7 linked regions of the Homo sapiens genome follow. The protein of the gene in region 1 purifies or fractionates together with the protein of each later gene. This does not show direct contact. Each region holds a gene or a part of one and is shown in the gene's direction. Other genes may lie near its edges. The genes, in order: APOBEC3D, SLTM, ZC3H11A, ATXN2, KIF23, YTHDC1 and LARP1.

Region 1 (3,500 bases):
GTGTAGCTAACATATTACTTCAACGCTGATTAACATAAAATTCTTCGCGAGATAGTGAAGTTTCTTTTTCTTCTCACACTGAAATGAGTGGTGTATTTTTGATGTGCCGAGGTCTCTCATCAGAGCCCTGTTTCAGATGCTCAGTAGCGCCCTTGGCCAGTGCCCCCCAATATGGGACAGCGCAGGTCCAGTGGCCTCCCCAGTGGGGAACAAGGCGGACCCCAGAGGGCCAGGACACAGTAGGGGCTGAGGATGCCTGGTGAATGGATGCCTGGGAGAATGGATGCCAGAATTCACACACGAGGCCATGAACAGGGCTGGGAAAACTTCCAAACACAGGGAAGCACGTGTCTTGGTGCACCTTGTGATGCTTCAACAGCAGGACTGAGACGGGGACATTTACAGTGAACAGAAATGTGTTGGCTCGAGTTCTGGACTCCAGGAAGTCCAACGTCAAGGCACCAGCAACTTTCCAGGGCCTGCGAGCTGCACAGTCACATGGGGGTGAAGGTTGTTGCCAGAAGCTCAGGGGATGCTCCAGACAGAGTGGCCTGGGATGTCGAGTCACTGGTGCTCCGTGACATGGGGACAAGAGGAAGCAGTTTAGTCTGACATACTGCCCCCCCAGCTAGAGGGCAAGAGACAGAAAGAGGGGCTGAGGTCACCTTTGAATAACCACAGCAGTGGCACCCACAAAGGTGCAGTCCCCACAGCCTCATAGCCTCTTCTAGGTGCCACCTCTTAAGGCCAGTACCATAGCAATTAACACTGAAGGTCAGCTTGGAGCAGACAATCACTCAAACCAAACAGGGGGGATGGAGGAAAGGAGCTTCAATGGCAAGATCCCCTGGGCTCCTGTCCTGGCCCCTCCTCCCCCTGCCCCACCCCGCACCCCTCCTGTTCCCCCGTCCCAGAGCTTCCCCTGCCCCTGCTCCTCTCCCAGGTGTATTTCCGGTTTGAGAACCACGCAGAAATGTGCTTCTTATCTTGGTTCTGTGGCAACCGACTGCCTGCTAACAGGCGCTTCCAGATCACCTGGTTTGTATCATGGAACCCCTGCCTGCCCTGTGTGGTGAAGGTGACCAAATTCTTGGCTGAGCACCCCAATGTCACCCTGACCATCTCTGCCGCCCGCCTCTACTACTACCGGGATAGAGATTGGCGGTGGGTGCTCCTCAGGCTGCATAAGGCAGGGGCCCGTGTGAAGATCATGGACTATGAAGGTGAGAGGTGCAGGGGTCAGGGGAGCATGACGGGGAGGAACAGCCTCAGAGATGGATGGATCTGCAATGCCATGGCTGGGGGTGTTCCAGGGCAGCCTGCAGGGGTGGGGCTGGCACTGATTGCAACTGACAGCCAGGAGACCAGGCCTGGGAGGGCAGGCCCAGGGTCAGGGGAGAGCCTGAGTGCTTCCCACCTCTTCATCTCAGACTTTGCATACTGCTGGGAAAACTTTGTGTGCAATGAAGGTCAGCCATTCATGCCTTGGTACAAATTCGATGACAATTATGCATCCCTGCACCGCACGCTAAAGGAGATTCTCAGGTGAGGGTCTCCCTCTGGCCTCATCGTCTCTCTCCTCTCGCCTCCTGCTCATCCTCCTGAGGACTCCCCTGGCTGGGCCCTCCTGCCCTCCGTCCTGCCCCCCTGCCTGCCCTCATGGTTACACCCCCTCACCCACACTCCTCATGCTCCCTCCACCTTGGTGCCTCCCCCCTGCTTTCCTGGGCTCTTCCTGTGAGTGAGAGGCCCCTTCTGCCTCCAGAGCGACCTCCATCCACCCCCGAGGCTGCCCTCCCCACAGCCTGGGAGCCCCAACCTGGCTCCTTCTATCTCCCTGGCATAACCGAATTTGTCATAAAACTGGACGTAGTAAGTGGGCATGAATAGTCACAAGCCCGACAGTCGGAAGCTTTGAGCAACATCCTTCAAGGCCGACCTGAGCCCCTGAGAAGGAGCCGCCACCATGGAAACAGAGCTTCAGGCTTCCGCGGCCATAGAAGATGCCCCCGGGCCGGGTGCCCACAGGGCAGGCATTTATTTTCTCACAGATCTGGAGGCTGCAAGTCCAAGGTGGAGGGGTGGGTGGGGTTGTGTCCTCTGTGGCCGCTCCTCCTGGCTGGCAGGGGGTCCCTTCCAGCCCTGTCCTCTCTGGCCTTTCCTCTGTGCACCTGCACTCCTGGGGTCTCTCTGCCTCTAAATGTCCTCCTTGTTTATGGACCCCAGTCAGACAGGATTAGGGCCCACCCTAAGGGCCATGAGTTAATTTAATCACCACTTTAGTGTACTTGTCTCCAAATACAGTTATCCTGTGAGGAGGTGGGGTTGAGGGCTTCGACATGTCAATGTAGGGAAGATACAATTTAGCCCATGACAATGACCCAGGGGGCTTGGGTCAAGCTTGGGTGGGGTGTGCAGGGGTCCCCGTTCTGTGTGTCTGTCTCCCAGGCGAGTCCTGCCCTGACTCCCACAGCCCCTCCCTCCAGACCATGGCTTCCCCACCTAACAGCACCTAGCTGGGCCTCCGGCTCACGCCTGTCCCTTCTCAAATCCCTCCCACAGGGATGGAGATGCAGAAAGAGTCAAGCAAACACTCAGTGATCAAGGTCCCATTTGAGTAAGGTTTTTTTGTTTTTTTTTTTTTGAGACAGCGTCTCCCTCTGTTGCCCAGGCTGGAGTGCTGTGGTGCGATCTCGGCTCACTGCAACCTCTGCCTCCCGGTTCTAGCAATTCCCTTGTCTCAGCCTCCCAAGTACCTGGGATTACAGGCTCATGCCACCATGCCGGCTAATTTTTGTATTTTTAGTAGAGACGGGGTTTTGCAATGTTGGCCAGGTGTTGAGTAAGATTTTACAAAAGAGTAGGCTTGGATCATGGGAGGCTTGAGATGCTAGGAGCTCTCCAGGAAGCACAACAGAAAAGGGCAACCAGGGACCAGAGAGGCCCTAGAAAGAGATCTAAGGCCCTCGGGAGAGATGGGAACTGAGCACCTGGGTCTTAGACCGGAGGAGCAAACTGCAAGACAGGGTGGCCGGGGACACCAGCCTCCGCCCTTCTGTGACATAGGGACAAGAGCTCAGCCTGCCAGGGAACAACTCTGGGCAGGAGATGTGGAAGGAAGGAGCTCAGTGTGGGGGCACGCATGGCATCCTGGGGGGACATCTGAGGGCACCCCCACCCACTATTCCTCCCTCCAATGGTGGCCTCTGAGTGTGAAGGCAAGGGGGAAGCAGACACCTGCCCCTCACTCTCCCTCCCTACCACATAGCTACCGGGTGGGGGGCGTCCCTGGGATGATTCCTGAGGGCAGGATCCAGGGGTCCCTCCGGAGGTCCTCCCATCCAGGTGAGAAAGCAGCATAAAGTGAGGCCTGCACTCAGATGGGCCTGGGAGGTCACTCACAGCGCAGGTGTCTCCTGGAACAAGGGCCCTGGACGATAGAAATAGAACCCAAGCCCAGGACTAAAATCAGGGCCAGGACAAGCCTGCCAGGGAGGCTA
Region 2 (3,500 bases), on another chromosome or scaffold:
GGTATATCAGGGATTAATAGTTTTTATCTTTTTTTTAAAGGTGCCTCTCTCAAGAGCATAATGGCTTCTCCTTACACATTGATATGTAAAATATACTTACTTTTAGAACACATGAATCATTGCATCATCCTTTTATTCTTTACCACATTGATGCTGTGTTGAAAAGCCTCTGAACCTTGCTGGAATACTGTCCAACCTCAGAGGTTGTATATGTCATTTTCATTTCACAAAATTAGCCCTTTTATCGCAGCCATTAAAACATACATTTGGCCAGGCGCGGTGGCTCACACCTATAATCTCAGCACTTTGGGAGGCCGAGGTGGGTGGATCACAAGGTCAGGAGTTCGAGACTAGCCTGGCCAACATGGTGAAACCCCCTCTCTACTAAAAATACAAAAATTAGCCAGGTGTGGTAGCATGTTCTGTAATCCCAGCTACTCTGGAGGCTCAGGCAGGAGAATCACTTGAACTTGGGAGGAGGAGGTTGCAGTGAGCCGAAATGGTGCTGCTGCACTCCAGCCTGGGTGACAGAACAAGACCCTGACTCAAAGAAAAAAAAAAAAAAAGGTAATCCAGAAAAGTACAAAAAAGTGAAGATTACCCGTAATCCCACCACCCTGAATTTATCATATGTAGCATTTTACATATGATATATATACATGTTTATAATTAAGTACATGTTTACTCTGTAAAGCTTTCTAAAAGTTAATCTAATATAGTAATCAACCACATAAAGCACATTTCATATTACAACACATGTTGATCTAAGTTGTGTAGGTGTATGTGCAAGTACTTACAGGAGGTTTATGTTTAAAGGTTTTTTCCCCCCTTTTCAACAACTAAAATAGATTCACACCATACATGGTGTTTTGTTGAAGGTAGATAGAACTTAAATATTTCTGTAGTCTGGAGAATCAAAAAACAATAACCTTCCGTCTATATTCTTCTCAACAGCTTCTGTAAATAGATTCACTTGTCTTAGTGGCTCATGATCTGCACTCTGCGTTAGTCATTTGAATTTTAAAAAATACAGATAGCAGGCTTTCACTCCCCATAGAGTTGGTTTGGGTTGTTATGTTGGGGGCCCAGGCATCAGTATGTATTTTCTAAAAGCTCCCCAGGTGATTCTTACATACACCTGAAGTTAAGAACTAACTAATCTAAACTAAAGCTTGAAATTTAGCATCATTTTTATTCATCTCTCTGCTGGTCAGTTTCTAGATTATTTTATATACTTTTCAGTTTTCGGAAAACTTCTACATTGCTTTATTTGATTCTCACAACGGTGCTGAGAGTTAAGCAGGACTATTTTCTTTTTACTGGTAGAATAGAAAGGTAATTCATTAAGAACCCAGTTAAATTACCTTTGACAGTCTTGTGTTTGTAGGCACACCTGCCTGAAGGAGTGTGCCGGAATTGTTTATTCTGTTCATCTTTAGATAATTAATGTAAGATATTTGAAAAATATACCTTTGGCATATTCTAGGTTTATTATAATGAATGTGAATTATCTTTGTAGTAATTTTTCAAAGTGACCTATTGGGCCAGGTGGGATGGCTCACTCTTGTAAACCCAGCACTTTGGGAGGTGGAGGCGGGTGGATCACTTGAGGTCAGGAGTTCGAGACCAGCATGGCCAACATGGTGAAACCCCATCTCTACTAAAAATACAAAAACTAGCTGGGCATGGTGTTGGGCACGTGTAACCTTAGCTACTCAGGAGGCTGAGGCAGGAGAGTCACTTGAACCCAGGATGCAGAGGTTGCACTGAGCTGAGATTGTGCCACTGCACTCCAGCCTGGGCAATAGAGTAAGACCCTGCCACAAAAACAGAAACAAAAAACTCAGAGTGACCTATTGTATGACTGTTGTGTTTAAGACAATGTGCAAGGCCTTTCAGAAAAATGATTTTGTTAGTAAAATGTCAGTTTAATAGAAGAGAAGCTAAAACACTTGCAAACAATACAAGGCATGGCCTGTGATTAAGATACTCCATGCAATTGGGAAGAGGTTGTTGCTGGAAACATTTCAGTTTGGCATATCTTCTTAATCTTCCCCTCCCTTGCAACAGAAATTTTATAACTAAGCTTTTTTTTTTTTTTTTTTTAACATTTTATCGTAGCTCTTGTGAATGTTTAAGGGGAAAAGTTACTCAGCCATAAAGTATTTTGGCAAAATGATTTTAAAATTTCCTTAGGCTGGGAGCAGTGGCTCACGCCTGTAATCCCAGCACTTTGGGAGGCCAAGGCAGGAAGATTGCTTGGACCCAGGTGGTTGAGGCTGCAGTGAACCATGACTGCCCCTGCACTCCACCCTGGGCGATAGAGCAAGACCTTGTCTCAAAGAAAAGAAACTAATTATTAAGTGGGATTTGTTTTTGTTTGGGAGGTATTTCTGAACTTAAAAAGGAAAATTGCAAACCATTATAGGGACTAGTTTGCCTTTGGAGGAAAAGGAAAATTGCAAACCCTTATAAAGACCAATTTGCCTTTGGAGGAGAAAGCCAATTTATCATCCAAAATCCTCAGAATTCTCAAATACAAAAAGTTCTGAAAACTGAAAGTTTCTTCTTAAGTTTGGTGGCAAAAGTTATTTATAGTCTTGACTTATCCCATTTGATGTGAATCTGCTTACATTTCATTGCACAAAATGTTTCTGTGATTGTGAAATACTGTTCCAGAAGCCACTGGGAGGTTTAACTTAATAAATAGTATATGCAACGTTTTACTCTTCTAAAATCTGAAAATTGTGAATTCTGAAACATATCTCAGAGGGTTTCATTAAGAATTTTTGGGCTTATACAAATTTATGCTACATAAATGTTTATAGTCTTGTCTTTCTCTGGTATATACGTTTTTACTTTGCCATTTTACTTTAGGCCCTCAAATCATGCAAGTTATATTTTAGATTTTGTTTTTGTCATTTCAAAATAGCTATGTTACTACTATGATAGTTTAGGATGTGATAGGTTAATCTTGCTTTCATTTTTTATTTTGTTATTCAGATTATGTTTACTGCCCAATTTATTTTGTAGTTTTTTCCTCAAAGCGTAAAAGTTTGGCTTCAGGCCAGGCGTGGTGGCTCACGCCTCTAATCCCAGCACCTTGGGAGGCCGAGGCCGGTGGATCACTTGAGGCCAGGAGTTCGAGACCAGCCTGGCCAACATGATGAAACCCTGTCTCTATTAAAAATACAAAAATTAGCTGGGTGTGGTGGCATGAGGCTATAATCCCAGCTACTCAGGAGGCTGAGTCAGGAGAATTGCTTGAACTCGGAAGGCAGAGGTTGCAGTGAGCCAAGATAGCGCCTCTGCACTGCACTCCAGCCTGGGCAAGAAGAGCGAGACAGTGTCTCCAAAAAAAAAAAAAAAAAAAAAAAAAAGGTTTGGCTTCAATCTGCCTTACACTTTCAGTTAGTTCCTTTATCCTGGTCATGCCACTTTCACAGTTTTGCGGCAGTTGCTAGATTCCCTGTAGGACAAAAGAGGTGAAACTATTTAGT
Region 3 (3,500 bases), on another chromosome or scaffold:
TATTTATTTATTTATTTTATTTATTTTTGAGACAGAGTTTTGCTCTTGTTGCCCAGGCTGGAGTTAAATGGCAAGGTCTCAGCTCACTGCAACCTCCACCTCCTGGGTTCAAGCAATTCCCCTGCCTCAGCCTACCGAGTAGCTAGAATTACAGGCGTACGCCACCATGCCTTGCTAATATTTGTATTTTTAGTAGAGACGGGGTTTCACCATGTTGGTCAGGCTGGTCTCAAACTCCTGACCTTAGGTGATCCACCTGCCTCAGCCTCCCAAAATCCTGGGATTACAGGCACGAGCCACCGCACCCGGCTAAATAGTAGGAAATTAGAAACAACTTAAATATACAATAAAAAGGGTTTAGATAAAATTATGATAGTTATGTGCTAAAATAATTGCTGTCATGAAAAGTCAAATGCTGAACAACGATATGGAAAAATCAACTTGCATTGTATCAAGTGAAGAAAGATAACAGAGAGCACATACCACTTTTGACCTCCTGATTTAGGGCAACATAAGAATCTTTTTTTTTTTTTTATTTTTTTTTTTAGTATTTATTGATCATTCTTGGGTGTTTCTCGGAGAGGGGGATTGGCAGGGTCATAGGACAACAGTGGAGGGAAGGTCAGCAGATAAACATGTGAACAAGGGTCTGTGGTTTTCCTAGACAGAGGACCCTGCGGCCTTCTGCAGTGTTTGTGTCCCTGGGTACTTGAGATTAGGGAGTGGTGATGACTCTTAACGAGCATGCTGCCTTCAAGCATCTGTTTAACAAAGCACATCTTGCACCGCCCTTAATCAATTTAACCCTGTGTGGACACAGCACATGTTTCAGAGAGCACGGGGTTGGGAGTAAAGTTATAGATTAACAGCATCCCAAGGCAGAAGAATTTTTCTTAGTACAGAACAAAATGGAGTCTCCCATGTCTACTTCTTTCTACACAGACACAGTAACAATCTGATCTCTCTTTCTTTTCCCCACATTTCCCCGTTTTCTATTCGACAAAACCGCCTTTGTCATCATGGCCCGTTCTCAATGAGCTGTTGGGTACACCTCCCAGACGGGGTGGTGGCTGGGCAGAGGGGCTCCTCACTTCCCAGATAGGGCGGCCGGGCAGAGGCGCCCCCCACCTCCCAGACGGGGCAGTGGCCGGGTGGAGGCGCCCCCCACCTCCCTCCCGGACGGGGCGGCTGCCGGGCGGAGGGGCTCCTCACTTCGCAGACGGGGCGGCTGCCGGGCGGAGGGGCTCCTCACTTCTCAGACGGGGCGGCCGGGCAGAGACGCTCCTCACCTCCCAGATGGGGTGGCGGTCGGGCAGAGACACTCCTCAGTTCCCAGACGGGGCCGCGGCTGGGCAGAGGGGCTCCTCACATCCCAGACGGGGCGGCAGGGCAGAGGCGCTCCCCACATCTCAGACGATGGGCGGCCGGGCAGAGACACTCCTCACTTCCTAGACGGGATGGCGGCTGGGAAGAGGCGCTCCTCACTTCCCAGACTGGGCGGCTGGGCGGAAGGGCTCCTCACATCCCAGACGATGGGCGGCCAGGCAGAGACGCTCCTCACTTCCCAGACGGGGTGGCGGCCGGGCAGAGGCTGCAATCTCAGCACTTTGGGAGGCAAGGCAGGCGGCTGGGAGGTGGAGGTTGTAGCAAGCCGAGATCACGCCACTGCACTCCAGCCTGGGCAACATTGAGCACTGAGTGAGCGAGACTCCGTCTGCAATCCCGGCACCTCGGGAGGCTGAGGCAGGCAGATCACTCGCGGTCAGGAGCTGGAGACCAGCCCGGCCAACACGGCGAAACCCCGTCTCCACCAAAACATGCAAACACCAGTCAAGTGTGGCGGCGCGCGCCTGCAATCCCAGGCACTCTGCAGGCTGAGGCAGGAGAATCAGGCAGGGAGGTTGCAGTGAGCCGAGATGGCAGCAGTACAGTCCAGCCTTGGCTTTCACAACTTTGGTGGCATCAGAGGGAGACCGGGGAGAGGGGGAGGGGGAGGGGGAATCTTTTTTTTTTTTTTTTAAGTTTATTTTCTTATTATAGAAACTTATTCTCAGGAGAAACATGCATATGTATGAGATTATTCTAATTTTGTAAAGATATAAACATATACCTTTAAAAAAATCTTCAAAAATACACGAGAATATAAATAAAATTGGTGTCATCTGGGTATTGAGGTTTTCTTTATATTCTTTCTGTGTTATAATTTTTAAATTTTTTAAATTATGAAATATAACTACATAAGTATATATATGTACAGTTTAAGGAATAATAAAATGAACATCCATGTATTCAGCCTTCCGTCTTTTTTTTTTTAATACCTTGCTGAATTCAGTTTGAGGCTTTTAAAAATTTTATATTTTTACATCTCTATTTATGAATGCTGTTAGCCACCTTAGGTTACTTTTTATCCCCCATCCTTATCTCATTTGGATGTTAAAGTTATATTAGCATCATAAAAAGGGAGTCCGATGTTGGACATTCTTATTCTGTTGTATGCAACCTGAATTATTCAGAGATTTCTAGGGTTTTATCTCTCCCTAGTATGCTGCAGGTTCACTGTTGTGGATCAAACATGGATCATTTTTGTTCATTCTGCTAAATCAGTATTTATGATAATCAGTATTTATCATAAATACTGATTCAGTAAATACATAAATACTGATTCAGTGGGCCCTTGAATCTAAAGATTTGTCTTTAGCTCTAGAAAACATTAATTTCTTTTGAGTATGACTGCCCCACATTTCTTTTTGTTTTCTCCTTGTGAAATTTGTATTAGATAGATGTTGGAACTTTGGGACATATGCCTGCATGTCTCTGTATACTTTTTGTTTCTTTGTTTTTGGCTAACCTTCTGTGAGCTTTGTTCAACTTTATTTTTTAGACAAGGAATTGACAATTTTTTTCCTGTAAAGGGTCGGATATAAATAACTTTGCAGTCCACAGTATTGCAGCTACCCCACTCTGCCATTGTAGAATGAAAGCAGCCATATGCATATGTATGCAATATGTAAATGAATGACTGCTGGTGTGTTCTAGCAAAACTTCATTTACAAAATTAGGTGGTGGCCATATGGGCTATATATAGTTTGCCTATGCCTTTTTAAATGGCTGATTTGGGGCCAGCCTTATCTTTATTATCCAGTCCTTCATATGAATTTATTTTGGCACTTGGTGTTTTTATTTTTCAAGAACTTTCTTTGTTCTCTTATTTTTTTTTCTTTATTCTCGGCCTGGGATTTCTTCTTTTTTTTTGAGATGGAGTTTCGCTCTTGTTGCCCAGTCTGGAGTGCAATGGTGCGATCTCGGCTCACTGCAACCTCTGCCTCCCAGGTTCAAGTGATTCTCCTGCCTCACCCTTCCGAGTAGCTGGGATTACAGGCATGCGCTACCACGCCCGGCTAATTTTGTATTTTTAGTAGAAACGGGGCTTCTCCATGTTGGTCAGGCTGGTCTCGAACTCCCGACCTCAGATGATCTGCCCACTTTGGCCTCCCAAAGTG
Region 4 (3,500 bases), on another chromosome or scaffold:
ACCCCAGAGGACTTTACCCACGGTGGTGGGGCTTACCAAAATTAAGATTCTTTTGGTTTTTTTTGGCAGAGTTTCGCTCTTATTGCCCAGGCTGGAGTATAGTGACGCAATCTCAGCTCACCACAACCTCCGCCTCCCGGGTTCAAATAATTCTCCTACCTCAGCCTCCTGAGTAGCTGGGATTACCGGCATGCGCTACCACCTCTGGCTAATTTTTTTGTTTTTTAGTAGAGATGAGGTTTCTCCATGTTGGTCAGGCTGGTCTTGAACTCCCGACCTCAGGTTATCCGTCCGCCTCGGCCTCCCAAAGTGCTGGGATTACAGACCATAGTGCCCAGCCCGAAATTCAGATTCTAATCACTGGGATGGACAATTCCCCTCTGACTAGGGCTAGTCTAAATACTCCCTCTGTGGGTGCTGGCTGAATTCTGTCCTATGCTGCTTTCCACTGTGACAGGGCAGCACTGAGTTTCAATGCAAAATCCCACAGTCATTTCTCTCTCTCTCCCCCGAGCACACAGATTCTTTCTCCACCCCACACTGCATTGTGGGGGAATGTCAGGGGTGTTGGAGGGGCAGTTCAAGACTATCTTCCTTATCTTTTTTGGTGTCTTTTTCCTTGATAGGATGTCAAAACTGGGTACTGTGATCGCTTACCTAATTTTTGGTTCTTATGAAGGTGCTTTCTTGTGTGGATAGTTGTTCAATTTGGTGCTCCTTGTTGGGGATGATCACTGGAAGGTTCTGTTTGGCCACCATGCTCTGTCTCTTCTCCCCTGCCATCTCCTTTTTTTACTTAGGGGTTTAGAATGTCTAACTGACCAATATGTACAGTCAGGTCTCATTCTGAATTCACCTACTTAATGACCTTCCAAGCTGACTAGGCCCAGCGCTTAGTCCAGCCTCCATGACGGTCCCTCCACATCCTAATTAGCCTCCCTCCAGTTCATTTCACACAAAGCTGCTGTGTTCACCTTTCTGAACTATAAATCTGCCCAGTACTCTACCCTACTTAAAATTCCGTATAGACTGCCCATTTGCCCTGAGAATTAAAAGCCAAAGTCCTAAACGTAGCTTTTTAAAACTTTTTTTTTTTTTTTTTTAATTTTTAGATGGAGTCTTGCTCTGTCACCCAGGCTGGAGTGCAGTGGTGTGATCTTGGCTCACTGCAACCTCCGCCTCCTGGGTTCAAGCAATTCTCATATGTCAGCCTCCCAAGTAGCTGGGATTTACACGTGTGCCATCACGCCTGGCTAATTTTTTTTTTTTATCTTTAGTAGAGACGGAGTTTCACCATGTTGGCCAGTCTGGTCTTAAACTCCTGACCTCAAGTGATCCACCTGCCTTGGCTTCCCAAAGTGCTAGGATGATAGGTGTTAGCCACTGCACGCAGCCCTGAACATAGCTTTTAAGTTCCTTTATTGTCATATTCCTTTTGACGAGTCTATCATTTTCTGACTCACTTGTACATGTGTGTCTCACCCTTGGTCCAGCCATTGGTGCTTTTCTTTACTTCTTTATTTTTGTTATTTTATTTTATTTTATTATTATTTTTTAAATGAGACAGGGTATCACTATGTTGCCCAGGCTGGTCTTGAACTCCTGAGCTTAAGCAGTCTGCTTGTCTCAGCCTCCCAAAGGGCTGGAATTACAGTGATGAGCTACTGTGCCCAGCTCATTGGTGCTATCTTTTTTTTTTTTTTTGAGACGGAGTCTCGCTCTGTCACCCAGGCTGGAGTGCAGTGGCGTGATCTTGGCTCACTGCAGCTCCACTTCCCAGGTTCACACCATTCTCCTACCTCAGCCTCCCGAGTAGCAGGGACTATAGGCGCCTGCCACCATGCCTGGCTAATTTTTGTATTTTTAGTAGAGATGGGGTTTCAGCGTGTGAGCCAAGATGGTCTCGATCTCCTGACCTCGTGATCCGCCTGCCTTGGCCTCCCAAAGTGCTGGGATTACAGGCGTGAGCCACCGTGCCCGGCCCCCATTGGTGCTATTGTTTTATGTGATAGAGCCAGCTTCTCCCTTTTCTTTGGATTTTTAAACATACTCTTCCTTTTACTTAGACTATTCTCCATCCCAACACCTTTCCTAAACTTCTTTCACACCTTAGACTAGCTGACACTTTACTGAGAAACCTTTCTTTTTTATAGGTTGCTTTTTCTATAGACTCTCTTAGCATTTACTCATTTTATTGTGAAGTGTCTGATCTTATTTAAATGACAAGTATAAGAGGATAGAAACTATTTCATATTTTTCTCACCCAGCAGGCACAATTTCTGACATGTGGTAAGCACTCAGTAAATATTGAACTTTAGAGGCTAGGACATTTGAGTGCTTTGGTGACTGTGGTTGTGCTATATAGGTACTCTGTTATTGTTAGTTTATAGTAAAAGCATTACTCTTAAAGTATGAAAAAAGCCTTATTCAGAACATTTCATGCGTATAGTTAATATTACGTAGCTTGTGCTCATGGCAAAAATGTATTACTAAAGTTATTTAAGATATTTAAGTATAATTGTTTCCTTTATTTAGTTACAGCCAAGTTCTACTTCTGAATCTATGGATCAACTACTAAACAAAAATAGAGAGGGAGAAAAATCAAGAGATTTGATCAAAGACAAAATTGAACCAAGTGCTAAGGATTCTTTCATTGAAAATAGCAGCAGCAACTGTACCAGTGGCAGCAGCAAGCCGAATAGCCCCAGCATTTCCCCTTCAATACTTAGTAACACGGAGCACAAGAGGGGACCTGAGGTCACTTCCCAAGGGGTTCAGACTTCCAGCCCAGCATGTAAACAAGAGAAAGACGATAAGGAAGAGAAGAAAGACGCAGCTGAGTGAGTAAACCTGGAACTTAGACCATCCTGTTACTCAATTAACTTTTTTTTTTTTAAAGGCATTTAGGTCCTTCCAACTGTGAAGAATCCATCTGGACTTTTAGACTACTTTATACATTGCCCTTAGTTTACAAACAGCTAGTCCAAACAAATGACATCTTAAGTAAATGAGGTTATTGCACCCTGTGCTACTCTTCTGTTCTTCCCCTTTTTTGTACCCCAGGGCTAGAAAAACAAGGCATAAATTAAGAAAAGTTTTTCTGTAAATGAACAGGAGTTGAAAAATTATCAATTCAGGGGACCTATCTTTACTGGATTCCACTCATTAGTCACCCTCACTGTGCTGCTAGGTTGAAAAACTGCCACTGTCAAGGAGAGAAGCATGCGGTGCTTCTACTTGGAATTCAAAATATTTTTCATCAGAAACTGTGTTTTAGTTAATGTTTAGATTTGTTAAGATAGACTTAATTCTGCACATTCAGTATATTAATTAAATGGACTTTTAGGGGCTAACCTCAGAACTTAACTACCATTGACTTAGGTGTTTGGGTACCAAACAATCCAGTTAAAGCTGAAGTTTTGGAATGCAGCTTATTGATAAATTGGGGACTGCTTATTCTTGATTTGAGGCAATTTTTTTTTACAGCCATGACTTTTTCC
Region 5 (3,500 bases), on another chromosome or scaffold:
GGACAGAAATTGGAAATAGAACGACTGGAAAAGAAAAACAAAACTTTAGAATATAAGGTTTGTTTTGACATTATTATGATAGATGTATGTGCTGGTGTTTTAGCACTGTTCTCTGAGGGAGATATTGTGCTCCAACGGCCTGTAAATGCTGCTTATTAAGAGTTCTCGGTTGAGTGCGGTGGCTCATGCAGGTAATTCCAACACTTTGGGAGGCTGAGGTGGCCAGATCATCTGAGGTCAGGAGTTCAAGAACGAGCCTGGCCAACATGGCAAAAGCCCATCTCTACTAAAAAAGTACAAAAGTTAGCTGGGCGTGGTGGCGAGTGCCTGTAATCCCAGCTACTCAGGAGGCTGAGGCAGGAGAATCGCTTGAACTGGGGAGGTGGAGGTTGCAGTGAGCCGAGATTGAGCCACTGCACTCCAGCCTGGGCGACAAGAGCAAGACTCTGTCTCAAAAAAAAAAAGAGTTCTCAGGCTGAGTGCGGGGGCTCATGCCTGTAGTCTCAGCACATTGGGAGGCCAAGGCAGGGAGATCACTTGAGCCCAGGAGTTCCAGACCAGACCGGGCAACGTGGCGAAACCCCATATCTACAAAAAAAATTAGCCAGGCATGGTGGTACATGTCTGTAGTCCCAGCTACTCGGAAGGCTGAGATGGGAGAACAGCTTGAGCCTGGGAGGTTGAGGCTGCAGTGAGCTGGGATTGCACGACTGCACTCCAGCCTAGGTGACAGAGCGAGAGCCTGTCTCAAAAAAAAAAAAAAAGTTCTCAATTGGTTGTTTACTAATCCTCATCCCATGCTAAGGAGGAAATGTGAGTGAAATGAAGAATCATATGTTCTTTAATTTTATGAGAGTTTTAACAGTTGAAAAGGATGTTCTCTGACCCAAACAAGGGAGCTTTCTAGAGCTTAGCTTTGGTTGTAGCTTGCTTTTGAATTTATTAGAAATATTTCCTTAGTATGCTTTTTTTTTTTAATGAGATAAATGATTAAATGAAATGGTATAAAAGTGCCAGCATCGGGCCTTGGACGTAACAGATACTCAGTAAAGCTTAATTGGATCTGTATTTGGTTTACAAATCGATTGTAAAAGTATAAACTCAGGATTAATCTCTTACAATGGGGTAGAAGGAAATACCGTTTTGTTGGGAAGCATTGCAGCACTGTGTAATGTATGTCTGTTCTCTCATTTACAGAGGGTCATTTAGAGGTTTGGTGGGGGTACACATTCATAAGAGAAGTTAGTCTCAACCAATATAGTTTTTTTAAATTCTGAAAATAGCCTAAAAACTAAATTTTAGCCCTTAATTTTAGGAGAAAGTAATTTTCACATGAAGTTAGTTGTAAATGTCTTTGGGTGAGGAGCTTGTTTAACATGTTTTCATTTCTGAGAATGGGGGTGGGAATTCAGATGAAATGTTAGAGAAAAAAGTGCTTTCTCCATGATGTTTCTTTCCACAAATATGCTTGCATAAGCAAATTAAGGAAGACTATTTTATAGCGACATGAAATGTTTATATACCAAATATTGAACATAGTGGTCTACCTTCCTAGATTGAGATTTTAGAGAAAACAACTACTATCTATGAGGAAGATAAACGCAATTTGCAACAGGAACTTGAAACTCAGAACCAGAAACTTCAGCGACAGTTTTCTGACAAACGCAGATTAGAAGCCAGGTTGCAAGGCATGGTGACAGAAACGACAATGAAGTGGGAGAAAGAATGTGTGAGTATCGTTTGGGTAGTGCTTGTCTCAGAGTCGGATGATTTATTTTACATTGTAGTTAGGTTCGATATTTTGAATTATTGTATTTGCGGTAGGGTTTTGGTGGTGGTTGTTAACTCTCAGGAAGAATTGGAGAACTGTCATTTTTAGGAAATAAAGAGATTGGGTAATCTGGTGTACTCGTTTGCTGTGATGGAATGATAATATACATTGCCACTGATAATCTGTAGGAGCGTAGAGTGGCAGCCAAACAGCTGGAGATGCAGAATAAACTCTGGGTTAAAGATGAAAAGCTGAAACAACTGAAGGCTATTGTTACCGAACCTAAAACTGAGAAGCCAGAGAGACCCTCTCGGGAGCGAGATCGAGAAAAAGTTACTCAAAGATCTGTTTCTCCATCACCTGTGCCTGTAAGTTATTTGTAATTGTGTAGTAACTTTGTACTAGAGAAATTTTGTTCAGATTAGATGACTATTTCTATGAGGATTTTTACATTTTATAATACTTACATTTCTGAAATTTCTCTAAAAATATTTTAAAATTTAGAATAAACACAAATTTAGCACAAAAAAATAGAACAAATAATTATTTGTAATGTTAAGTCTTCATGTGCTAACATTATAGAAAAGTAATGAATTGTTTCTCTCAGTTTTTCAGTCTTGCTCATTAATTTTTCTCCAATTTTTCTAGCTTTCTAGTAACTATATTGCTCAGATTTCCAACGGCCAGCAACTCATGAGCCAGCCACAGCTACATAGGCGCTCTAACTCTTGCAGCAGCATTTCTGTAGCTTCCTGTATTTCGGAATGGGAGCAGAAAATTCCTACGTACAACACACCTCTCAAAGTCACATCTATTGCAAGGCGTAGGCAGCAGGAGCCAGGACAAAGCAAAACTTGTATCGTGTCAGACAGAAGGCGAGGGATGTACTGGACTGAAGGCAGGGAGGTGGTTCCTACATTCAGAAATGAGATAGAAATAGAAGAGGATCATTGCGGCAGGGTTAGTGCCAGTATTATTTTAACGCATTGTAGCAATAGATTTTATCTTCTTTGTTTTTTGTAACTTGTGTCTGAAAGTTCATTGGAAAAATGGTTGGGCTATAGTATAAAGAAGGTCTAATTTCTCAGTTAATTTGAAAGATTGACTTACGGAAATTGAGGCCTGGCTCCTCATCTGAAAAAGCCTAAACACATCTGGCAGCGGAAGTGTGTTCAGTGAACACAGGTCAGTTTGGTGCATCCCAGAGTAGTCTGAGCTTTTCAGCTGCATACGCTAATAAGCTTTGCACAGAATTGGTGAATGTGTCTTAAAGCATACTTTCCATATTTTTCTTTTGGTTCCCCTTCCCCAAATTAGATTTTTTATACCTCCTTTCATGCCCTAGTTTTAAAAATTGTTTTCCCAAATTTTTATTTTGAAAAATTTCAGACCCAAAGCAAAGTAGAAAGAATAGTATGGTAATGTCTTTCCCTCCTTGCCTAAGTTTACCAATTGTTACTTGATATAGATATGTAAACCTTTTTCCCCTAAGCCTTGTGAAAGGAAATCACAGACTTAGAGACACTTAATCTCTAAGAATAAGGACATTGTACTACCTAGCCACAATCTTTATCACATCCAAGAAAATCAACATTAATTAATTATCCTCTATTGAGACATTGTGCAGTTGTCCCAAAATTGGATTGGCTTTTCTTTTTTTTTTTTTAAAGACAGAGTCTCACTCTGTCACCCAGGATGGAGTGCAGTGGCATGATTATGGCTCACTGCA
Region 6 (3,500 bases), on another chromosome or scaffold:
TAAGATTTAACTGTATTTATTAGAAAAATAATCAGGCTTATTTTGAACACTGAGTTGTCACTATTTTTAGGTCCTTACTGCACACTGAAGTATTGTACACAAGAAGCTCATTATTTAAGTGATCTTTACGTGGCATACACAAATGTATTACCTGTAAAATTAATTTTAGTTAAAAAGTGTCTGAAAGGAGATGGTTACTTTGTGAGTTTTAAGTTGTTTTTGGGTATTAGATCTTGATGAGCCTGAAGGGGTCGGATGAAAAAGAAGAAAAATGCTATGCATATGATGGAAATCAGCCTAAGCCAAGAAGAGCATGGAAACAAACTATGGGGTTGCAGGGTTGTGGGGAGCAGTGGGAGGGCATATGGATGTGTGAGTGGGATAGGGAGCTACCTTTTTTTATGAAGGAGATGGTTAGGAAAAGAGAAGAACAGAGGGCAAAGATGGATAAGAATGAATGAATGTGAGTCAGCCTAAATGTTTATTGTAGGATAGTGAGGAGCTGTGAAGATAGAGGGAGTGATATATTACAAATAGCATACAGTCACTTACTGTGTAGTGACATACCCATCAACAAAGAATCTTGTCCCATAAGACTGTAGGACTCGTAAGAGGTACCTATAATACCATATTTTACTATACCTTTTCTATGTTTAGATACACAAGTATTTTCCATTGTGTTACATTTACCTACACTATTCAATACAGTAACATGCTGTGCAGATTTGTAGGCTAGGAGAAACAGGTCATACCATATATCCTAGGTATGTAGTAGGCTATACCATTTAGGTTTGTGTAAGTGCATTCTGTGATGTTCACACAATGAAATCACCTAATGAGTGTATCCCTGTCATTAAGTGACACATAACTGTATTAGGTTGATAATAGCGTAGCAAAAAGCTATGTGCAGAAAAAATACTCATCCCATTATTACTTTCTGTGGGAAAGAGTTGGAAATCATCTAAATTCTTTGAAATAGAAAATTAGTTAAATTATAGTTTGTCTCTTAAATATATGTGGAAGTAATTGTGCACATATCAACATGGAAAGGTATAACAAATGAAAAAATACATAATTATGGTATTGGAATGCAGTGTTAGGTGGTGAGACTGTTAGTGCTTTCTCCCACTTCCTCTCTGTTGCCCCCAGGGGTTTTAAAATATAAACTTGGTTTTTTTGAAATCAAAATTATAATTAAGTTATAATTAAAGTTGAAAATCTGGTGACAATTTGTAGGAAAGGGAGTGATTATTTTTATTTTGTGTGTGTATGTGACTGCTCTGTAAAGGCCAGAGGAAACGTTGTAATGTAACATATTTGCAGGTGTTGCTTTCTTGGGAACAGGAGAGAAAATAATTGCCCATTTTTATGTGGGTTGCAGCAGATTTTGTTTCAAATGTTATTTGTTCTGTTAACCTTCATTTTTACATTACTGATAAGGAAATTCTTAATTTTAAGATGAATTTAATTTTTCATGGATTATTCATTCTTCATATTCCTCTTCATTGACTTATTGACTATTCTACTAATTTGTTTGAAATGTATCAAGCAACCGAAGAGGTAGACAGACTCAATTTGTCTATCCTACTAACGTGAGGTGTAAAATTGTGGGCAGTAAAGTGCTTTTATTATTTTAAAGTAAGTTTATGGGTTTACCTAGAAATAGTATTTTTACATAATAAAACTATAGTTTTAATGTTTTAATACTCAAGTTCTATTCAAGTGTAATTTTACAATACTTTACAGTTCTGGAGGGCTTGTGATATTTCTAACATTGATATTTCCTTAGATAAGTCACTTGAACTCTCTTGAGTTTAAATTCTCTCTATATAGTGAGAATTACATTTGAGTCTCAGAACATTTAAATTTAATAAATAGAAATGGTCAGGACTTTGCTATCAACAGTAACTGCTGTTAATATTTTTTTCTTTTGCAGATATAATAATTATTAGATTTATATTTAAGGACCCTTTGGATATAATAATAACTAGACTTAAGCTTTTTTAGGTGTGATCCCTGGATCACTTACATCAGTAGCATCTGACTGTTAAAATGCAGAATCTTGAAACCCACCTCAAACCTGTTAAATTCTTGATGGTTCAGGTAGTTGGTAGGCACATGGAAGATTGGGACCAGATAAGTGTCATGTTTTAGCTGATAAAGAGAGGGAGGCATAAAAAGCGACTTATTAAGGTTGCCACCTGTAATTAGCTCAAAATAAGGCATGATCTATGAAATACTATTCATCCAGAGTTACATTTACTGACTAGGTGTTATATTCCTTTCATGTCCATTCCAAACAACCCATTTCTGTTTTCATTTAGAGTCTCTCCATTTTTCTTTTCTTTTCTTTTGAGACGGAGTTTCGCTCTTGTTGCCCAGGCTAGAGTGCAATGGCGCAATCTCGGCTCACCACAACTTCCGCCTCCCGGGTTCAAGCGATTCTTCTGCCTCAGCCTCCCTAGTAGCTGGGATTACAGGCATGTGCCACCACGCCCGGCTAATTTTTTATTTTTAGTAGAGACGGGGTTTCTCCATGTTGGTTAGGCTGGTCTCGAACTCCCGACCTCAGGTGATCCGCCCGCCTCAGCCTCCCAAAGTGCTGGGATTACTACAGGCATGAGCCACTGCGCCCGGCCTCCATTTTTCTTTTTAACTTTAATCAACAAACCACTGTCCAGCATATAAGAGCCTCTGCATGGCTGGGCGCAGTGGTTCATGCCTGTAATCCCAGCACTTTGGGAGGCTGAGGTGGGTGCATCACTTGAGGCCAGGAGTTCGAGACTAGCATGGCCAACATGGTGAAACCCCGTCTCTACTAAAAATGCAAAAATTAGCCAGATGTGGTGGCGCATGCCTGTAGTCCCAGCTACATGGGAGGCTGAGGCATGAGAATCCCTTGAACTCAGGAGGCGGAGGTTGCAGCAAGCCGAGATCATGCAGCTGCACTCCAGTCTGGGTAACAGAGTGAGACTGTGTCTCAAAACAAAAAACTGTGCACAGTTTTACATTCTTTGTTAAATTTGCCCTATTTGCAGAACCACTTAGGTCAGAGAGTCCCTTACATGTTCTCAAAGAACTCACAGTAAAGATAAGTTGTATCTGTATGCTTCATAACATAGCTGCTCAGAAGGTAACTGTTAGGTTGCTTGTTCTATGATTGTGATCTGAGAAGAAAGGATAAAATAAGGATGCTACATGGATCACAGACCCTGCAATTTTTCTTAATTTATTCTGAGCCCTGTTTTGCCTCAGGCTTCACAGTTTTCTGTGATGTTCTGGCTGAGATTAACTGTGTTGAAACAGTGAACAGATGTCTCTTGAATCTAGTTGGAACCAGTGCCACCAAAGAATCTCAACCCCAAATGATACATTTAGCTTGGCCTATGCTTTTACTTCTACTTGGATCGTGGGTATTTAATTGCTGATATTTAAATAACAGTGATAATCCCATTAATTTATAACCTTCTTATATTTTGGTGGCTGTAGGTTTTCATTTA
Region 7 (3,500 bases), on another chromosome or scaffold:
GGTTTCATAGGTGACCAGTGAGATTTGGTGGTTTGTTTTCGTATCATTTGTTATTATAAGCTTATGGGCTCAAACGTATTTATTTTGGTCCATTGCAGTTAATGGATTGGATCAAATTGTCCCACCTTTGGTCAGTGGGACCCTATACATTTCCTGCCCCAGATCTGGAATTGGCCACTTTTAAAAGGAATTCTAGTTCCTTTCTTTTGGGAAATGGTATTTAGATACCAGTCTGAGTTATAGGGGTGCTTTATTGCTACTTGGTTGGTCATTCTTTCTAGATGATTTTTTTGTTTTTTGGTGAGATAAAATACATCATGGAGTTATTCTGTTTTGTTGTTGTTGTTTTTTTTTTTTTTTTTTTTTTTTTTTTTGAGACAGAGTTTCACTCTTGTTGCCCAGGCTGGAGTGCAGTGGCATGGTCTCAGCTCACTGCAACCTCCACCTCCCAGGTTTAAGCAATTCTCCTGCCTCAGCCTTCCAAGTAGCTGGTATTACAGGCATGCACCACCACACCCAGCTAATTTTGTATTTCTAGTAGAGATGGGGTTTCACCATGTTGGCCAGGTTGGTCTCGAACTCCTGACCTCAGGTGATCCACCCACCTCGGCCTCCCAAAGTGGTGGGATTACAGGCATGAGCTACCGCGCCCGGCCTGTTCTGGTATTTTCTATTAAAGGGTCTTTACGTAGACTTGTGGATCTTTTATTTTACCTACTGCTTTCTTCCATGCCCATAATCTTAATTCCTAATGATACCAACATAATTACTCATTTTGTTTTATTTCACAGTATGTCTACCGTCTTTTTTTTTTTTTTTTAAACATTTTTTAAAGAGAGAGGGTCTTGCTCTCACAGGCTAGATTGCAGTGGTGTGATCATGGCTTACTGCAGCCTCAACCGCCTGAAATCAGGCAATCCTCTTGCCTCAGCCTCCTGAGTAGCAGGATTACAGGTGCACACCACGTGTGGCTAATTTTTAAATTTTTTGTAGAGATGAGGTCTTGCAGTGTTGCCCAGGCTGGTCTGAAATTCCTGGGCTTGAGCCATCCTCTCACTTCGGCTTCCAAAGTGTTGGGATTACAGGCGTGAGCCATTGTGCCAAGCTCTACATTCTTACAATACCTCCACTACCACTGAAAACAGTTTTTCCACTTATACAGTATCTTCAAGTCATTTGAAAGAATCTTTGTGTGGTTTCACATTTAAATTGATATATATATTAGTTTTATTTTGCTTCCAAGTTTTAGAGATTGCTTTCTCCCTACCCCTATAATTTTCTAAGTTGTTTTACATTTGTGTAAAACATTTACGTGGTTCTAGAGTCTCAGCATGGTATAGTCATAGAAGTCTGACTTAAATTCTGTCACTTACACCCTTTCTTCTCTTACAGGCAAACTTTTTAGAACCTTTCCATTTAAGAAAAAAGCAAATGCCTCTACATGTATTTGTATCCTTGGTAAATGGAAATATACAACACATGGCATTTCTTCAATTCTTTTTTGTTTTAACTTAATATATCTGGGAGCTAACTGCAAAGTAGCAGTATATAATAGAAAGATATTCCTCATTCCTGTGTACAGTTGCATAGTTCACCATTGTGTGGAATGCTCCATGTTTTTTCAACTGCTGCTCCTATAGATGGATGTTTTGGTTGTTTTTTTGAGACTAGGTCTTGCTCTTTTGCCCAGGCTGGAGTTAGTACAGTGGTGTTATCAAAGCTCACTGCAACCTCAACCATCTAGGCTCCCAAGTAGCTGGGACCACAGATGTATGCCAGCGCCACCTTTTTACGATTTGTAGTGATAGAGTCTCGCTATTTTGCTCAGGCTGGTCTTGAACTCCTTTGCTCAAGCGATCTACCCACCTTGACCTCCCAAAATGTTGGGATTACAGGTGTGAGCCACTGTACCCAGCCTGCTTTTTTGATTAATATTTTGTGGGTTTATCCACCTCAGCACATGTAAAGTTGGTTGTTTTTTTGTTTGTTTGTTTGTTTGTTTGTTTGAGACGGAGTCTCGCCCTGTCGCCCAGGCTGGAGTGCAGTGGCACCATCTCGGCTCACCACAACCTCCACCTCCTGGGTTCAAGCGATTCTCCTGCTTAACCTCTCGAATAGCTGGGACTATAGGCGTGTGCCACCACAACCAGCTAATTTTTGTATTTTTAGTAGAGATGGGGTTTCACCATGTTGGCCAGGATGGTCTCAATCTCTTGACCTTGTGATCTGCCTGCCTGGGGCTCCCAAAGTGCTAGGATTATAGACGTGAGCCACCAGGCCCGACCTGTAAAGTTTTTTAATGTCTGAGTAGTGTTCCATCATGCATATGCTGTAAATATTTAAATTGCCTATGCGATGGCAAGTTAGGTATTTTATAGTTCTTTTTCTACTCTAGTTTTACTGTGAATGGCTTTTTGTCCAGATATTATACATACTGCTCCCTGTTTGTGCAAGTGTTCTCTAGAGCAGATTACTGGAAGTAGGATTGCAGGCTCAAAGAGTAAAAGGGTAGGTGTATTTATTATGCTGGTACCTCCTACAAGTTTGAACATCTCACATTATCTACCAGTCGTGGAAGATGGTGTCAATTTTCTTATATTACTGGTAGCATTGGACTCATACCAAGCTCAGGGGAACCCAGTTGTCTACCATTTCCAAGATCTTTCTGTCCAAGATTTTCTTCTTAATCCCCTCTTCCTTCTCCTCCCCTTCAGGCCCTAAAGGACAGCAAGGTGGTGGAGATCGTTGATGAGAAAGTTCGTAGGAGGGAGGAACCAGAAAAGTGGCCTCTTCCCCCAATAGTGGATTATTCACAGACTGATTTCTCCCAGCTTCTCAACTGCCCTGAATTTGTTCCCCGTCAGCACTACCAAAAGGAGACAGGTAGGTACCTGCTGGCATGAAGATTGCCCTTGTCCTCTGGGCAACAGTCCTCCTCAGGGCTGGCATCAGGAGGAGGACTGGAGGGATGAGGACTTCCCCTTTCCACCCTTTAGAGTCGGCACCTGGCTCTCCTCGTGCAGTCACCCCAGTGCCAACCAAAACAGAGGAGGTCAGCAACCTAAAGACACTACCCAAGGGCCTGTCTGCCAGCCTGCCTGACCTGGATTCTGAGAACTGGATTGAAGTGAAGAAGAGGCCTCGGCCATCCCCAGCACGGCCCAAGGTGGGTGAGGCCTTGTCCCTTGCCTTGGTTCTAGCACTCTGAGCTAGGGTGCTTGAAGGGGATAACACATGGGCACAGCACTCTAGCTCTGAGGGGCCAGCAGGAAATCTGGGTAGTTCAGGATCATAGTGTGAGTTGAAGTTACCAGTAGTGGCTACAGAAAGGTTGATTTGGCTTGTTTCCATTTCCTGTGGGGAACCACCCTTTAGGGCGCCCTACTGTGTGAGTTCCTCGGTGACATTTTTCTTAAGGGATCATGCAGCATCTGGCAGCGATGTTTCTGGCTTCTTGATTCTTGGCTCTTCTTTTTGCTCCATCTAAATTTCTGGGGCTG

What was found.
Region 2: the proteins of APOBEC3D (region 1) and SLTM purify together in Homo sapiens (affinity purification with mass spectrometry; 2 studies listed by BioGRID and IntAct, with this or other methods). This does not show direct contact.
Region 3: the proteins of APOBEC3D (region 1) and ZC3H11A purify together in Homo sapiens (affinity purification with mass spectrometry; 2 studies listed by BioGRID and IntAct, with this or other methods). This does not show direct contact.
Region 4: the proteins of APOBEC3D (region 1) and ATXN2 purify together in Homo sapiens (affinity purification with mass spectrometry; 2 studies listed by BioGRID and IntAct, with this or other methods). This does not show direct contact.
Region 5: the proteins of APOBEC3D (region 1) and KIF23 purify together in Homo sapiens (affinity purification with mass spectrometry; 2 studies listed by BioGRID and IntAct, with this or other methods). This does not show direct contact.
Region 6: the proteins of APOBEC3D (region 1) and YTHDC1 purify together in Homo sapiens (affinity purification with mass spectrometry; 2 studies listed by BioGRID and IntAct, with this or other methods). This does not show direct contact.
Region 7: the proteins of APOBEC3D (region 1) and LARP1 purify together in Homo sapiens (affinity purification with mass spectrometry; 2 studies listed by BioGRID and IntAct, with this or other methods). This does not show direct contact.

Annotation. Positions count from the first base shown.
Region 1 is NC_000022.11:39,024,127-39,027,626, forward strand, and holds part of APOBEC3D (DNA dC->dU-editing enzyme APOBEC-3D), read left to right. Parts: intron 1-943; coding exon 944-1,223; coding exon of another isoform or gene 1,224-1,430; coding exon 1,431-1,545; intron 1,546-3,500.
Region 2 is NC_000015.10:58,923,680-58,927,179, reverse strand, and holds part of SLTM (SAFB-like transcription modulator), read left to right. Parts: intron 1-3,500. UniProt on the Homo sapiens protein: When overexpressed, acts as a general inhibitor of transcription that eventually leads to apoptosis.
Region 3 is NC_000001.11:203,840,623-203,844,122, forward strand, and holds part of ZC3H11A (zinc finger CCCH domain-containing protein 11A), read left to right. Parts: intron 1-3,500. UniProt on the Homo sapiens protein: Through its association with TREX complex components, may participate in the export and post-transcriptional coordination of selected mRNA transcripts, including those required to maintain the metabolic processes in embryonic cells.
Region 4 is NC_000012.12:111,487,816-111,491,315, reverse strand, and holds part of ATXN2 (ataxin-2), read left to right. Parts: intron 1-2,535; coding exon 2,536-2,840; intron 2,841-3,500. UniProt on the Homo sapiens protein: Involved in EGFR trafficking, acting as negative regulator of endocytic EGFR internalization at the plasma membrane.
Region 5 is NC_000015.10:69,438,349-69,441,848, forward strand, and holds part of KIF23 (kinesin-like protein KIF23), read left to right. Parts: coding exon 1-57; intron 58-1,555; coding exon 1,556-1,729; intron 1,730-1,959; coding exon 1,960-2,139; intron 2,140-2,419; coding exon 2,420-2,731; intron 2,732-3,500.
Region 6 is NC_000004.12:68,326,091-68,329,590, reverse strand, and holds part of YTHDC1 (YTH domain-containing protein 1), read left to right. Parts: intron 1-3,500. UniProt on the Homo sapiens protein: Regulator of alternative splicing that specifically recognizes and binds N6-methyladenosine (m6A)-containing RNAs.
Region 7 is NC_000005.10:154,796,877-154,800,376, forward strand, and holds part of LARP1 (la-related protein 1), read left to right. Parts: intron 1-2,714; coding exon 2,715-2,883; intron 2,884-2,996; coding exon 2,997-3,166; intron 3,167-3,500. UniProt on the Homo sapiens protein: RNA-binding protein that regulates the translation of specific target mRNA species downstream of the mTORC1 complex, in function of growth signals and nutrient availability.